Linked DNA regions of Homo sapiens. Changing the gene in region 1 together with any one later gene gives a genetic interaction. Each region holds a gene or a part of one and is shown on either strand. Other genes may lie near its edges.

Evidence for each region.
Region 2: changes in SSU72 (region 1) and RIT1 together harm fitness more than expected from each alone (negative genetic interaction), as found in Homo sapiens cells (one large-scale study listed by BioGRID).

What each region holds. Positions count from the first base shown.
Region 1 is NC_000001.11:1,557,639-1,561,656, reverse strand, and holds part of SSU72 (RNA polymerase II subunit A C-terminal domain phosphatase SSU72), read left to right. Parts: intron 1-4,018. UniProt on the Homo sapiens protein: Protein phosphatase that catalyzes the dephosphorylation of the C-terminal domain of RNA polymerase II. Plays a role in RNA processing and termination. Plays a role in pre-mRNA polyadenylation via its interaction with SYMPK.
Region 2 is NC_000001.11:155,901,350-155,904,849, reverse strand, and holds part of RIT1 (GTP-binding protein Rit1), read left to right. Parts: intron 1-45; coding exon 46-119; intron 120-347; coding exon 348-539; intron 540-3,500.

The DNA.
Region 1 (4,018 bases):
ACACTGGCACGATGCCGGGTGGGGCCTCAGGGGTGTTGAGATGTGCAGGTCGGGAGGACCCCGATAACGTTTCCTGGTTAGTGATGGGTGCAGGGGGGCCGCGGGAAGTGACTGTTACAAGTGAGAGCCCGAAAGCAAATCTGCCCCACAGCAGCCGGTGCGTTGGCAGAAGTCATCGCCGTAAACTGCAGTGGAAGCAAGACGGGGTTCAAGATGCGGCCCAAAGATAAGACGCAGCACTTGGTCGAGTGTTCACAGCGTCAAGACAAAGGACGGGCCGGCGCGGTGACTCAGGCCTGTAATCCCAGCACTTTGGGAGGCCGAGGTGGGTGGATCATGAGGTCAGAAGTTAGAGACCAGCCTGGCCAACATAGTGAAACCCCATTTCTACTAAAAATACAAAAATTAGCCGGGCATGGTGGTGCACGCCTGTAGTCCCAGCTACTTGGGAGGCTGAGGCAGGAGAGTTGCTTGAACCTGGGAGGCAGAGCCTGCAGTGAGCCGAGATCGCGCTACGGCACTCCAGCCTGGGTGACAGAGTGAGACTCTGTCTCAAAAAAATAAAAAAGGAAGGACAGTGTGACTTGGGAGGAAAATGCTGCTTGTTCAGAGGCAGGGCCGGGGTCGAGGGGGACCCCACCACTGCCATCTGCCTACTTGCCATGTGGCCAGGGCTTAGGTTTCTCTGTGCATGCCCACCTCGCAGAATTTCTGATAATTAAATAAATTAGGACATGCACACACTGAGCCCGAGACAGTGTTTTAAAGCCTTCAATAAATTTTGGCCAGTTGTCCTATTAGTATTGAAATACTTAATTTATTATTATTATTTTTTTAGATATGGGTCTTGCTGTGTTATCCAGGTTTGTCTCGAACTCCTGGCCTCAAGTGATCCTCACATGTTGGCCTTCCAGAGTACTTGGATTAGAGGCGTGAGCCACTATTCTCAGCTTTCATTTCTTAAATACAAAATCTCCTTGACTTTCTGTGAGGTTGCCTGCTGGTAACCCCATGCTAAAGTGAAAAAATCCTGCATTGAGCCATAATAAGTTAGAGACTGTATTTGGCTCTAGATGGCTGATTTTGGTCTTTTCCCCCACAAGCCAGAAGTGAGCCTGAGGGGTTGAGGGACTTGCTGCCTGTGCCTCTGAAACCTCCCTTGGGGATTGTCAGGGTACGAGTCTAGGTTTGCAGCACTGGGATGCGAGCCTTCGGTAAAGTTAGACGAGCCACGCCTGCAGTTCCAGCCTGGGGAGACCGAGGCAGGAGGCTCAGTTGAGCCCAGGAGCCGGAGGCCAGCCTGGGCAGCATAGCAAGCCTCTATCTCTACAAAAAACACACAGATGTGGTGGGTGTGGTGGCACAGCTACTCGGGAAGCTGAGGCAGGAGGCTTCACTGAGCTGTGATTGCGCCATTGTGCTCCAGCCTGAGGAAGAGAACAAGACTCTTGTTAAAAAAGTTTCATCCACATTTTCTTTTGGGAATTAATAGTATACATACATGGGGCTGGATGCAGTGGCTCACACCTGTAATCCCAATACTGGGAGACCGAGGCAGGTGGATCACCCGAGTTGAGTTTGAGACCAACCTGGCCAACAGGGTAAAACCCTGTCTCTACTAAAAGTACAAAACGCTAGGCATGGTGGCACATGCCTGTAATCCCAGCACTTTGGGAGGCCGAGGTGGGCGGATCACCCAAGGTCGAGAGTTTGGGAGCAGCCTGACCAAAATGGAGAAACCCCCGTCTCTACTAAAAATAAAAAATTAGCCGGCCATCGTGGTGCATGCCTGATCCTAGCTACTCATGAGGCTGAGGCAGGAGAATCACTTGAACCTGGGAGATGGAGGTTGCCGTGAGCCGAAGTTGCACCATTGCACTCCAGCCTGGGCAACCAGAATGAAACTGTCTCCAAAAATAAAATACAAAAAGTAGCTGGGTGTGGTGGCGTGTGCCTGTAATCCCAGCTGCTCAGGTGGCTGAGGCGGGAGGGTCACTTGAACCCAGGAGGCAGAGGCTGCAGCGAGCTGAGATTGTGCTGTTGGACTCCAGCCAGGGTAGTAATAATAGTAGTAGTGTATATACCTGGACCAGGGACGGGGATCTAAGCTCCCCTGACCTTTGTAGACAAATGGGAACTCTACTGTGTAGGTTCTTTCCTTGGGTGGACTGACCGTTTTATCAAGAATTGTTTTTATTGAGATAAAATGTACAAATCATGCACTTCCCTGAGTCGCGTGTCCAGTTCTGTGGGTTTCAGGACATTCATGGAGTTGCAGCCGTCACCACAATTGGTTTTGAGACGCTTTTCGTCTCCCAAGGCCGTTTGCTGCTGCCCATTCTCCTCCCAGTGCCTGTAGCAGCTTCCCGTGCTACAGGTCCGCCCGTTCCACACCGTCCAGTTTAGCTGCTTCCCGTGCTACAGGTCTGCTCATTCCACACTGTCCAGTTCATATGCAGCCTTTTGTTCTTTCGCTGAGCATGCGTGGAACTATTTCTAAGTCCCAGGTTTCTTTGCCATGACTTTTCCTCGCTCAGCCTCAGTGGCACGTGGAGTAGAGCAGCTTTGCGCTGGGTGTCCTGCCGAGGGGCTTGAGCCTGGCTCCCAGGGTCACGTGCAGAGGCTTCTCTATTTTTTTTCATTTTACACTGAAGCCACTTTCCATAGTTGAGCTTTCTTGCAGGATTTTTTCATTTTTGATTGAAAGGAGTCTGGTTAAGCCATCCCAAGCTTGCTTGGAGTGCCTTTGGGGAGAAGACAAGTGACTTCTGTTTCTAAGTTAGTGAATGGCCAGTCTGACCTAGTGAAGTGTCACTCAGCCCAGTGAGGGGGTCCAGGCAACAGCCGCTGGCCCAGAGGGTAGAGGAGGAGGGAGAGGCCGTTGTGAAAGGAGGGCTGGGGTGGCAGACACCGGCCTGGACAGTTCCCCCGCTCCAGGGAAGCCCATTCAGCCACATGAGAAGGTGTGTGGGAGTCTCACAGGATCCTACAGAAAGTTCATCCTGTGTACATGTAAGTTAGTGAAGGTTTACCAGCTTTTTGTGTTATGAACTGCAAAACCACTTGTCTTCAAAAGCAAGTAAACGTGTAGCTCTAAATGTTAATGTGACTGTTGTCCTGTGAAACGCAAGTGCATCTGACACTTTCCTGGGTCTCGTCTGGCCGTGCAGCTGGAGACCAAGCCTGTGTCTGGCATATACTGTTTGTACCTCTCTTGTGGATTTTTTTCTAATTACCTAATTTTTTCTAATGACGTTTGGGGTTTGGATTATTATTATTATTTGGTTTTGAGACAGGGCGTCTCTCTGTCGTGTGGGCTGCAATGCAGTGGTGCTGTCACAGCTCACTGCAGCCTGGGCATCCCAGACTCAGGTGGGTGATCCTGCCACGTCACCCTCCCCAGTAGCTGGGACCAGAGGCCTATGCCATGCCCAGCTTTTTTTTTTTTTTTTAATTGAGACAGAGTCTCACTCTGTTGCCCAGGCTGGAGTGCAATGGCACGATCTTGGCTCACTGCAACCTCCGACCCTGGGTTCAAGCGATTTTCCTGCCTCAGCCTCCCGAGTAGCTGGGATTTCAGGCATGTGCCACCACGCCTGGCTAATTTTTGTACTTTTAGTAGAGATGGGGTTTCACCATGTTGGCCAGGCTGGTCCTGACCTCATGTGATGAGCCCGCCTTGGCCTCCCAAAGCTCTGGGATTATAGGGGTTGCCACTGCACCTGGCCTGTGTTTTAAATTGCACATTTGTTCATGTCCGTCCTCTGAATTCATTGTCTTTTAGGTTAACTTCTGTGTGTGGCCACTTCCCTGTGGACATTTCCTTGTCTCAGAGTAAAATGTGGTAGACTTCTTTTTTGAGATGGAGTCTCAGTCTGTCACCCCTGCTGGAGTGCAATGGCGTGATCTCGGCTCACTGCAATCTTTGCCTCCCGGGTTCAAGCGATTCTCCTGCCTCAGCATCCTGAGTAGCTGGGATTACAGGTGCGGCGTACCACCACGCCTGGCTAATTTTGGT
Region 2 (3,500 bases), about 150 Mb from region 1:
TCCGGCATTTATGACTTTATAGTACACCTTTCTTCCCTCCTGTAGAAGATGCTTATAAGATCAGGATCCGTATTGATGATGAGCCTGCCAATCTGGACATTTTGGATACAGCTGGACAGGTATTAAATCCCAGAATGTTATGAGTAAAGGCTTTTTTACTCTAGCAAAGGGGAGGGGAAGGCCTACACAGAGAAGATCAATAGTTTATCTCTCTTAATTTTTCATGCACTCTGACTCAGGATAGCAGGTAATCGACATGCGTTTTCTTTAATCTGAAAGAAATAGCTAATTGTGTGTGTAGTTGGGCTAGATTGCGTCAATACATAATGACCCTTGTTTCCCTCTAGGCAGAGTTTACAGCCATGCGGGACCAGTATATGAGGGCAGGAGAAGGGTTTATCATCTGTTACTCTATCACGGATCGTCGAAGTTTCCATGAAGTTCGTGAGTTTAAACAGCTTATTTATCGAGTCCGACGTACTGACGATACACCTGTGGTTCTTGTGGGAAACAAGTCAGACCTCAAACAGCTAAGACAGGTGAGGATAGAGAAGAAAATACTGTCTATAATCTTATACAATTAGTCATTTTTGTTTCTTGGCTTACAGATTCTTGGCTTGGCTTACAGATTTTTTTGCCTTAAAATAGAAAATCAGGCTGGGTGAGGTGGCTCACACCAGTACTTTGCGGGGCCAAGGTGGGCAGGTTGCTTAAGGTCAGGAGTTTGAGACCAGCCTGAGCAACATGGCGAAACCCCATCTCTACAAAAAATACAAAAAAACATAGCTGGGCATAGTGGTGCATGCACATGTGGTCCCAGCTAGTTGGGAGGCTGAGGTGGGAGGATCCCTTGACCTGGGGAGGTGGAGGTTGCAGTGAGGTTGGGGCTACAGCTTACTGCAGCCTCTACCTCCCCAGCTCAAGCAATCATCCCAGTTCAGCTTTGAGGGTAGCTGGGACCACAGGCGTGTGCCACCACTCCCAGCTAATTGTTTTTACTTTTTGTGGAGACAGGATCTCACTATGTTGCCCAGGCTGATCTTGAACACCTGGACTCAAGTGATCCTCCTGCCTTGGCCTCCCAAAGTGTTGGGATTACAAGTGTGAGCCACAGCGCCTGGCTGGAAGTAGTTTGATAGTAGTCAAATTCATAATGCTTCTCTGTTAATCTCCATTGGAAAAAATTTATAGGGATTTATATATAACATGTTCATTGCAAGACTATTTATGGTAGAAGAAAATGAGAAACAATCTAGCTGTCCAAAAGTAGAAATTATGGCATATCCATAATTAGATGTATCAATTATGGGCTCCTAATAGTTTTCAATATTTTAGTGTAAGCATATATCTCTTTCCCTCCCTTTGTGTTTCTTTCTTTTTTTTTTTTTTTTTTTTTTGAGACAGAGTCTCACTCTGTTGCCTTGGCTGGAGTGCAGTGGCACAATCTCGGCTCACTGCAACCTCCTCCTCCTGGGTTCAAGTGAGTCTCCTGCCTTAGCCTCCTGAGTAGCTGGGATTACAGGCGCATGCCACCACGCCCGGCTAATTTTTTTTTGAGACGGAGTCTTGTCTGTCGCCCAGGCTGGCGTGCAGTGGCACGATCTCTGCTCACTGCAAGCTCTGCCTCCCAGGTTCATGCCATTCTTCTGCCTCAGCCTCCCGAGTAGCTGGGACTACAGGTGTCCGCCACCATGCCTGGCTAATTTTTTGTATTTTTAGTGAGATGGGGTTTCACCGTGTTAGCCAGGATGGTCTCGATCTCCTGACCTCGTGATCAGCCTGCCTCGGCCTCCCAAAGTGCTGGGATTACAGGCATGAGCCACCGCGCCCGGCCTAATTTTTGTATTTTTAAGTAGAGACGGGGTTTCACCATGTTGGTCAGGCTGGTCTCAAACTCCTGACCTCATGATCTTCCCACCTCGGCCTCCCAAAGTGCTGGGATTACAGGCGTGAGCCACCGCGCCCAGCTTTCTTTTTTTTTAATTTTTATTTTAATTTTGTTGTTTTGAGACAGAGTCTCACTCTGTTGCCCAGGCTGGAGTGCAGTGGCGCAATCTAGGCTCACTGCAACCTCTCTGACTCCTGAGTTCAAGCGATTCTCCTGCCTCAGCCTCCTGAGTAGCTAGGATTACATGTGCCTGCCACCACATCCAGCTAATTTTTGTATTTTAGTAGAGACGGGGTTTCACCATGTTGGCCGGGCTGGTCTTGAAGTCCTGACATCAGGTGATCCACCTACCTTGGCCTCCCAAAGTGCTGGGATTATAGATGTGAGCCACCACACCCAGCGTTTTTTTGTTTTGTGTTGTTTTTTAGACAGAGTTTCACTCTTATCACCCAGGCTGGAGTGCAGTGGCATGATGTTGGCTCACTGCAACCTCTGCCTCCTGGGTTCAAGCAATTCTCCTGCCTCAGCCTCCCAAGTAGCTGGGATTACAGGCGCCTGCCACCATGCCCAGCTAATTTTTCTTTTCTTTTTTTTTTTTTTGATATAAAAGCATTTTTAAACTTTATTATTAATACTCAGGACATTAGGAATTTCCAGATTTTTTTCAGTAGCATTTGTAGAACCACTTTTGGTAACAAATACAGTAGTTAGGAATATGCATCCAGTTCAGAATGCATAATAATGTTTCTCCTGAATCCTTTCCGGCTAAAAACAGGGCTGGCACTGTGATGAGATATAGAACGAGAATCTACAAAAAACACTGTAACATGTTTGTTTTTTCCCAGAGGCTACATCCTCTTTTGCTGGAATACTTTATAAATACATATTAAAAAGTAAGGCAACAACTCCAAACAGTCCAAGCTGTTTGCTCAACTCTTTTCCCAATTAGATTTGCAATCCCGGTGATCAGTTTCATGGTTGTATTGTTTAGTGTTTCTTTCTTATTTTAGTAGAGATGGGGTTTCACCGTGTTGGCCATGCTGGTCTTGAACTCCTGACCTCAGGTGATCTGCCTGCCTGCTTCAGCCTCCCAAAGTGCTGGGATTACAGGCATGAGCCACCGCACCCAACTTTTTTTTTTCTTGAGACAGGGTCTTGCTCTGTCACTGAGGCTGGAGTGCAGTGGCGCAAACATGGCTTACCGCAGCCTTGACCTCCTGGGCTCAAGTGATCCTCTTACCTTAGCCTCCTGAGTAGCTGGGACCACAGGTGTATACCACCACATCCAACTAATTTTTTTTTCTTTTTTTGAGACAGAGTCTGGCTCTGTCACCCAGGCTGGAGTGTGACACCTGGAGTGCAGTGCCGCGATCTTGGCTCACTGTAACCTCCGCCTCCCAGGTTTAAGCGATTCTCCTGCCTCAGCCTCACGAGTAACTGGGATTACAGGTGCCCAACACCATGCCCAGCTAGTTTTTTTTAAGTGGAGACAGGGTTTTGCCATGTTGACCAGGTTGGTCTCGAACCCCAGACCTCAAGTGATCCACCTGCCTCAGCCTCCCAAAGTGTTGGGATTACAGGCGTGAGCCACCGCTCCTGGCCCCAGCTAAAT